Linked DNA regions of Homo sapiens. Changing the gene in region 1 together with any one later gene gives a genetic interaction. Each region holds a gene or a part of one and is shown in the gene's direction. Other genes may lie near its edges.

Region 1 (3,749 bases):
TGTTATACTTAGGGTATATTCCTTTCACTTAAGATTTACAATGTAAAAATGTAACAACAGTTATTCAGGTAAATTATAACTTATTTTTAGCATTCTGCAAGGTGGTGGGATCCAAAAAATAGGTGGGAGAGATGTGGCAACAGTCAGTGTGAAAAAGAGGAAAGGGTTTAGTCAACCACAAGCTCAGTATTAACCACCAGCGTGGCATGGTTGCCAAAAAAGTAAATTTGAACCTTGGCAGTGTTCATGAAAATATAACGTCTAAATTAAGGAAATTAATAGAAGCTTATTCATTTCAGTTCTACTTTTTTAAAGATGAATACTGACAAAATGAGCAACCAGGATAGTGGAAAACTTGGAATTCTTTAAATTAGGAGCAGTTGAAGGAATTGGGAATGTGTAGTATATAGAAGGAAATGTTTTGAGGAGACGATAAGATTGATTGCAGTGTAATGCAGAGGAAATTCTTTTGGGATTTGAGTCAGGAAACCTGAGCTAACTAGTTAAAGTACCTTGTATGGTAATTATCTCCCTTGATCTCGGTTTCTGATTTTAAATATTTGAAAGATTTTCATATGGAATCAAAGCTAGACTTTAAAAAAGTTGCTCTAGAGGATATGATAAGAACCAATTGTTAGAAATTACAGGGAGAAAAAGTAAAAATCACCTCAAGATGGGAAAAAATACTTGCAGTTCACAATCAACAAAGGATTAATAGTCATAATATGTAAAGTCAATAAGATAAACAATCTATATAAGTCAATAAGTCAATAAGAAAAACGAACAAAATGAAAACCTAGTAGAGCAATGAACAAAGGACATGAGTAGGCATTTCATTTTTGGAACATGAAACCTAAATGGTCAAGAAACATGTTAAAAGATAAACTTAGGCACTTTAAAGTTGTAAAGAGTATATTTGAGCAGAAAGCAATTCATGAATCAGGCAGTACCAGATGGCAAGCAGGTGGGCTCCAGTGAGGAGATTCAAGGGTAAGACTTCTTTCTATAATGTGTTCCCGGAAGCAAGACAAAGAAAAAATTTGATTGTTTAAAGAAGGACAGTCCCTGGATTGGTCAGTTTGCAGTTCCTCATTGATTAAGCTAAGTTGCATTTTGCTGCTCATATTGAATTGGGTTTGTTTTTTGCTTTTTGTTGTTGTTGTTTTTGTAGAGACGGGGTTTTGGCATGTTACCTAGGCTGGTCTCGAACTCCTGGGCTCAAGCGATCCTCCCGCCTCACCCTCCCTAAGTGCTGGGATTACAGGCGTGAGCCACCTTGCCCGGCCTTTATTCTTTTCCTTTTTTTTTTTTTGAGTTGTGTTGTGATTTGTTTACCTAGGAACTCAAGCTGTTAGAGTTGTCTCAGCCTAATGGACTCCCAATTAATTATTTTAACACATGTTAAATTAATAATGGAGAAATTAAATTAAGACCACAATGAAATACCATTTTATACTTGCTGGATTGCTGAAAATTAAGAAGTCTTGGTAAGTCTATAAAGCAATAGGTGCTCTCATATCCTGCTGTGTAACATAAATTAGTATAACCACTTTGGAAAACAAATGATCATTATGTGTAAGGCTGAATGTGCTCATACCATGTAGACCAGCAGTTCCACTCTTAAGAATGTTATTAAGGAAACTGTTATACACATGCCTCAGTACAAATGTGTAGAATGTTCAGAGCACATGGTTGATCATACAAAAAACTGTGGCCGGGTGTGGTGGCTCATACCTGTAATCCAAGCACTTTGGGAGGCCAAGGCAGGAAGATCACTTGAGCCTGGGAGGTTGAGGCTGTAGTGAGCTGAGATTGCACCACTGCACTCCAGCCTGGGTGACAGAGACCCTGTCTCACACACACACACGGAAGGAAACAACCCAAATGTCTACTGCAAGAAAATGAAAAAATAATGATATATTTACCAATAGAATATTATGTAGCAGTAAAAAAAAAAATGAATAAAGTATAGCTACATGTAAAACCATGGATGAATTTTAAAAACATAAGGTTGGATGAAAAAATGAAGTTGTAGAAGTTACATATTGATTGATAACACTATTTTGAAGCTCAAGAATGAAAAAATCAATATATTGTTTAGTGCCACATATTTATTTGGTATAACTACTTTGAAGAGTCCTCGAATAATCAACAAAATTCAGGATAAAGGATACGTGCAGTTGAGAGGTGGGGAGAAGCATAAAAGTAGATCAAAAGGTATTTATTAATATTCTAGTTATTAGGTGGATAGTGGCTCCGTGGGTATTTGTTGTTGTTATGCTTTGAAATTTACACTCCATATATTCTTTCATATATATATATATATATCAAACAGTACATAGTATTTTCAAACAAAATTTATTGTAAGGAGAGAGGCTGGAATTCAGTATAGGGAAACTTTCTTTAAAAAAAAAAAAGTTTGTCAGAAATTAGAATGACCTGCCCTGGGAGGTCATGAACTCCAGTCTCTAGAAGAGTCAAAGTAGAAGTAGAAAGTTTATGTTAGAAATAGCTGGGAGTGAAGGATGGTGTGTGTGTGTGTGTGTGTGTGATCCAGGGTGAGTGGGAGGCTCAACTAAACCTCTTAAGTTCTGTTGCAATTCCAACTCCACCCTACCATGTTTCTTCTGTCTTTCTAAATCTTAGTATATTTCTGCCTAGTTGCAGATCAAATTATAGGAAGAAAGTTGAGGTCTAAACTATGTGTTAAACAAGGGTTTAAGCCATATGTTATTGCTAATTTCCTTTTTCCTGTGCCTATCAATATTTGTATTTTCACATGGCTTCACTCGACTACTTTAGTTAGCTGTGGATTTGTGAAATACCCAAAGAAATTGGCCAAGAGGAGAAATGTTCAAGTTGACACTGCAGCCACAGCTAAATTTAATATAATGGTTGGTTTGCTTTTGATGCCTTTATTATGAAAAAAGAAAAAAATATGTATACGTAATGGTTGAGAACTTTTCATAATGACATAGAATCCTTTTCTGAGGGGCTGCTAAGAGAATTATTTTTAAAATAGTAAAATGTTAATAACTTATGATGCTTTAGATACCCTGCTTTACACATTAAGAAGACCTTACTTTAGAAAAATGGAAAACCAGGACGCCCTGGTCTGCATATCTGAGAGCGTTCCAGAGCCGATCGTGGAATGGGTGCTTTGCGATTCACAGGGGGAAAGGTATGACACATCCATGGTAGCTGCTATTCTCATAATTTCCTTTTGGCCTTTTTCTAATGTAGTTGACATCAAGCTGTATGTAAAATTTAATTTATGCTCATTTAAACAGGAAACTTTGGCTTCTTAAAGTTAAAAAATGGCCAGTATAGGGCCGGGTGAAGTGGCTCACGCCTGTAATCCCAGCATTTCGGGAGGCCAAGGTGGACAGATCACTTGAGGTCAGGAGTTTGAGACCAGCCTGGCCAACATGGTGAAACCCCATCTCTACTAAAAATACAAAAAATTAACTGGGTGTGGTGGCAGGCACCTAAAATACCAGCTACTCTGGAGGCTGAGGCAGGAGAATCTCTTGAACCTGGGAGGCAAAGGTTGTGGTGAGCCAAGATCACGCCATTGCACTCCAGCCTGGGCAACAAGAGCGAAACTCCGTCTCAAAAAATAAATAAATAAAATTAAAAAAATAAAATAAATAAGTAATACAGAATGGCCAATGTGGGCTTCACAGGGAGGACAAGGATTTTTTTGGTAAGGGGCTTTTTGGAACCCCTCAAATCAACTGCAGGGCCCT
Region 2 (3,749 bases), on another chromosome or scaffold:
AACTCTCTGAGCTGGTATGTAGAGACATCGTTCTTTTTTTTTCTTTTTTTCTTTGTCCTCTTTTGAGACGGAGTCTTGCTCTGTCGCCCAGGCTGGAGTGCAGTGGCGCGATCTCTGCTCACTGCAACCCCGCCTCCCGGATTCAAGCAATTGTCTGCCTCAGCCTCCCGAGTAGCTGGGATTATAGGCACCCACCAGCACGCCTGGCTAAGTTTTGTGTTTTTACTAGAGATGGGCTTTCGCCATCTTGGCCGGGGTGCTCTTGAACTCCTGACCTCGTGATTCACCTGCCTTGGCCTCCCAAAGTGCTGGGATTACAGGCATGAGCCTCCGTGCCCGGTGGAGACATAATTCTTACATATTGGTTTTCTATCCAGCGGCCTTGTGAAATATGCTTGTGAATTCTAAAGTTTACTTCTAGGTCGTTTTCAGTCTTCAATATACAGAAACATATCATCCTGGAATAAGAGCAGTTTTGTTTCCGCCATATTTTTTTCTTTTCCCTTTTGTATTTTTTTGTAGAGACGGGGTTTTGCCATGTTTCCCGGGCTGTTGTTGAACTTTTGAGTGCAAGTGATGCACCCACCTCACCTCCCACAGTGCTGGGATTACTGGCGTGGGCCACCGTGGCGGGCCCGTCGTTGGCATTGTAAAGAGTTTTATTTCCTTTTCTGATTTTATGGCATTGCGCAGACCCACCCGTTACAATGGTGACAGTGGACATCCTTGTCTTCTCCCTGATGAGAAACCGAAAAATTTCAACATTTCGCCATCCTATTCACTCTCCTTTTTTTGTAGACGGACTTTATCAGAGTGAGTCATTGCATTCTGTTCCAAATTTGCTGAGAGTATTCATTTGAATATATGTTGATTTTCATCAAACAGTGCATCTATTTCGATTACCACAGCGTTTTTTCCCATTCATGTGTTAATATAGTGAATTCGATTGATAAATTTGTACGTTTTTAGGTTCGATTATTAAAACTTGAGACAGCGTCTCACTCTGTCACCGAGGCTGGAGTGCGGTGGTGTTATCAGAGCTCGCTGCAGCCTTGACCTCCTGGGCTCAAGTGCGCCTCCCACCTCAGCCTCCTGAGGAGCTGTGAGTATAGGTACATGCCACCATGCCCAGCTAATTTTTCGATGGTTTTTTGTTTGTTTTTTGTAGTGATGAGATTTTCTGATGTTGCTTAGGCTGGTCTCGAAGTCCTGAGCTCAGGTGATCTGGCCAGCTCAGCCTCCCAAAATACTAGGATTACAGGCGTGAGCCTTGGCCTGGTCTGGTTTTTCTTATATAGGGGTCTTATCTATATAAAGACTAAAGTTAATCTGTGCCTTTGTGCGGGTGGGCTAAGAGCATGATGACTTTTATCATTCTATTGATTTAAAGAAAACTGTCCTTGACTTACCAGTGTGTAAGTCCATGAAAGCATAATTCTGTTGAAAGCATATATTGTTAATGGGTGTTGGGAACCGTGCACTTTCCGCTGCTGTGGGAGCATGTCCTTGGAGGTACCTTTCATCTGTTTTCTCAACTCCAAACATCTTAGGACCATGGGTTGTGACTGGTAGGACTATGTATCTTGCTGCTTTCAAGACGGAGTATATTTTCACGTGGTGTCACTCTGGCTGTCCTGTTTCCCTAATACTGTCACTTCACCCTCTGCGATTCTGATGCTACAAATGATAGATATCGTTTTAGCATTTTCTTACGGGTCCTAGCGATTCTATTCATTTTTCTTTCAGTCTCTTTCTCTGACTTGTTCACATTGAACAATTTCCTTTTGGGATAGGTTGCTATTTCTGTTTTCGCAGGTGGTTTACCTGTCTTCCCAGCCAGTCACAGTGGTCCTTGTCCCCATGGTGGGTCCGGGGCAAGAGAGGGCCCTGGGTTGGGGGTGGGGTTCAGTTGAAGATGGGGTGAGTTTTGAGGGGAGCACTACTTGAGTCCCAGAGGCATAGGAAACAGCAGAGGGAGGTGGGATTCCCTTATCCTCAATGAGGATGGGCATGGAGGGTTTGGGGCGTGGCGCTGGGAACGGCAGCCCTCCCCAGCCCACAGCCGCGCATGCTCCCTGGGCTCCCGCCTCAGTGCGCATGTTCACTGGGCGTCTTCTGCCCGGCCCCTTCGCCCACGTGAAGAACGCCAGGGAGCTGTGAGGCAGTGCTGTGTGGTTCCTGCCGTCCGGACTCTTTTTCCTCTACTGAGATTCATCTGGTAGGTGTGCAGGCCAGTCATCCCGGGGGCTGAAGTGTGAGTGAGGGTGGAGAGGGCCTCGGGTGGGTCAAGCGGGTCCCGCTTCCTGGTCTGTGGCCTCCGAGGGAGAAGGGCCACGAGGTCGTCCTCCTTCCCTTCACAGGCTGCGAGGCCACCGGCGGCTTCGTGGTCGTGAAGGGGCCTGGACGGGGAGGAAGGTGGGCCGTGGAGGGGAGGCGGTCAGGGGCTCAGGTGAAGACGGGGTGAGTGCTGTTGGGGGGATGGAAGTCCCGAGGTGCCGGGATCCCCGACGACACAGGGCAGATTCCCTGAATGGGGCCCCCGGCGGGGGCGAGGCGGGCGGTGAAGAAGGGGCCTGGCACCTGGGAAGGCTGCGGCCTGGCGAGCGCCCCCTCAGCGGTGTGGAGTGCGGAGCGCCCGAGTGAGAAGCACTGCAAGGTCTCACCTCCGCCATGGAAGGTCCGAAAACAGTGGGAAGGAGTGGGCGAGGCAGTGCGGTCCAACCAAACTTGTTGTGAGGGGGGGTGAATGGCTCTAGGAAGTGGGAGTGTGCCCAAAGCAGCAATCACGAGAATTGTGATTCACTAGGGTTTTCGTGGGGAGTGCACTTGTGAAACTAAACCTCATCAGAAATGACCTCTGTCTGCGGGGCGCAGTGGCGCTCGCCTACGTATTCCCAGTTACTGGGGACACTGAGGTGGGAGGATCCCTTGAGCGGGAGGTCGAGGCTGCAGTGAGCTGTGATCACGCCGCTGCACTCCAGCCTGAGCAACACAGCGAGACCGCGTGTCCAAAAGAAATTTAGAAAAAAATGTCCTCTGCCTTTTGCCACACGCCTTAAGATGATTGCTCTGCCAGCCTGGCCAGCAGAAGTGGCTTTGTAGGCACTCAGACAGCGTACACACGTATGCTTAACTCTGGGACTTATTTTGAGAGTATTTTCAAAAGTAAAACGGCAAGTTAACATTTATCCATGGAAGTGATCGAATATAGCAGCCCTCTGGAGCGCACGTTCCCAATCACGGTTGTCTGTTTTCAGTGTGAAATATGAGTTGGCGAGGAAGATCGACCTATTATTGGCCTAGACCAAGGCGCTATGTACAGCCTCCTGAAATGATTGGGCCTATGCGGGTGAGTGCTTAAACGTTAATTCGATGTTTTCTATTAGTAGAAATTAATTTTTGTGATAGCGTCGTTGCATTAGTGTGGAAATGCTGATAAAGGTCTTTCCTGCTCATAAAAAATGAGGATGGCATCTCATGAAGGAAACATTGATTCTGGAGGATTTTTTTTTTCCTCTCGTGTTCTTCAGCTTTTGCCCATGACTTCTTTCTCCGGCTTTGTTTGTTAATGACAGATTGTACACATGTATTCCAACACAGAGTATAATAGCCCCCAAAGTCCTCGTGCGTCACTTTTCTCACAGTAACCTCCCTGTGGGTGGAGTAACCTTATTGGGCATAGAGCATAGAGTTGGAGAAATGTCTTTAGGCTTAGTTAGGACCAGAAATAGCTATGTATTCTGTGTATA

The links.
Region 2: changes in FLT3 (region 1) and GAGE12E together harm fitness less than expected from each alone (positive genetic interaction), as found in Homo sapiens cells (one study listed by BioGRID).

The regions. Positions count from the first base shown.
Region 1 is NC_000013.11:28,051,977-28,055,725, reverse strand, and holds part of FLT3 (receptor-type tyrosine-protein kinase FLT3 precursor), read left to right. Parts: intron 1-2,802; exon of another isoform or gene 2,803-2,894; intron 2,895-3,051; coding exon 3,052-3,181; intron 3,182-3,749. UniProt on the Homo sapiens protein: Tyrosine-protein kinase that acts as a cell-surface receptor for the cytokine FLT3LG and regulates differentiation, proliferation and survival of hematopoietic progenitor cells and of dendritic cells.
Region 2 is NC_000023.11:49,549,179-49,552,927, forward strand, and holds the start of GAGE12E (G antigen 12B/C/D/E), read left to right. Parts: upstream 1-2,110; 5' UTR 2,111-2,218; intron 2,219-3,257; 5' UTR 3,258-3,265; coding exon 3,266-3,349; intron 3,350-3,749.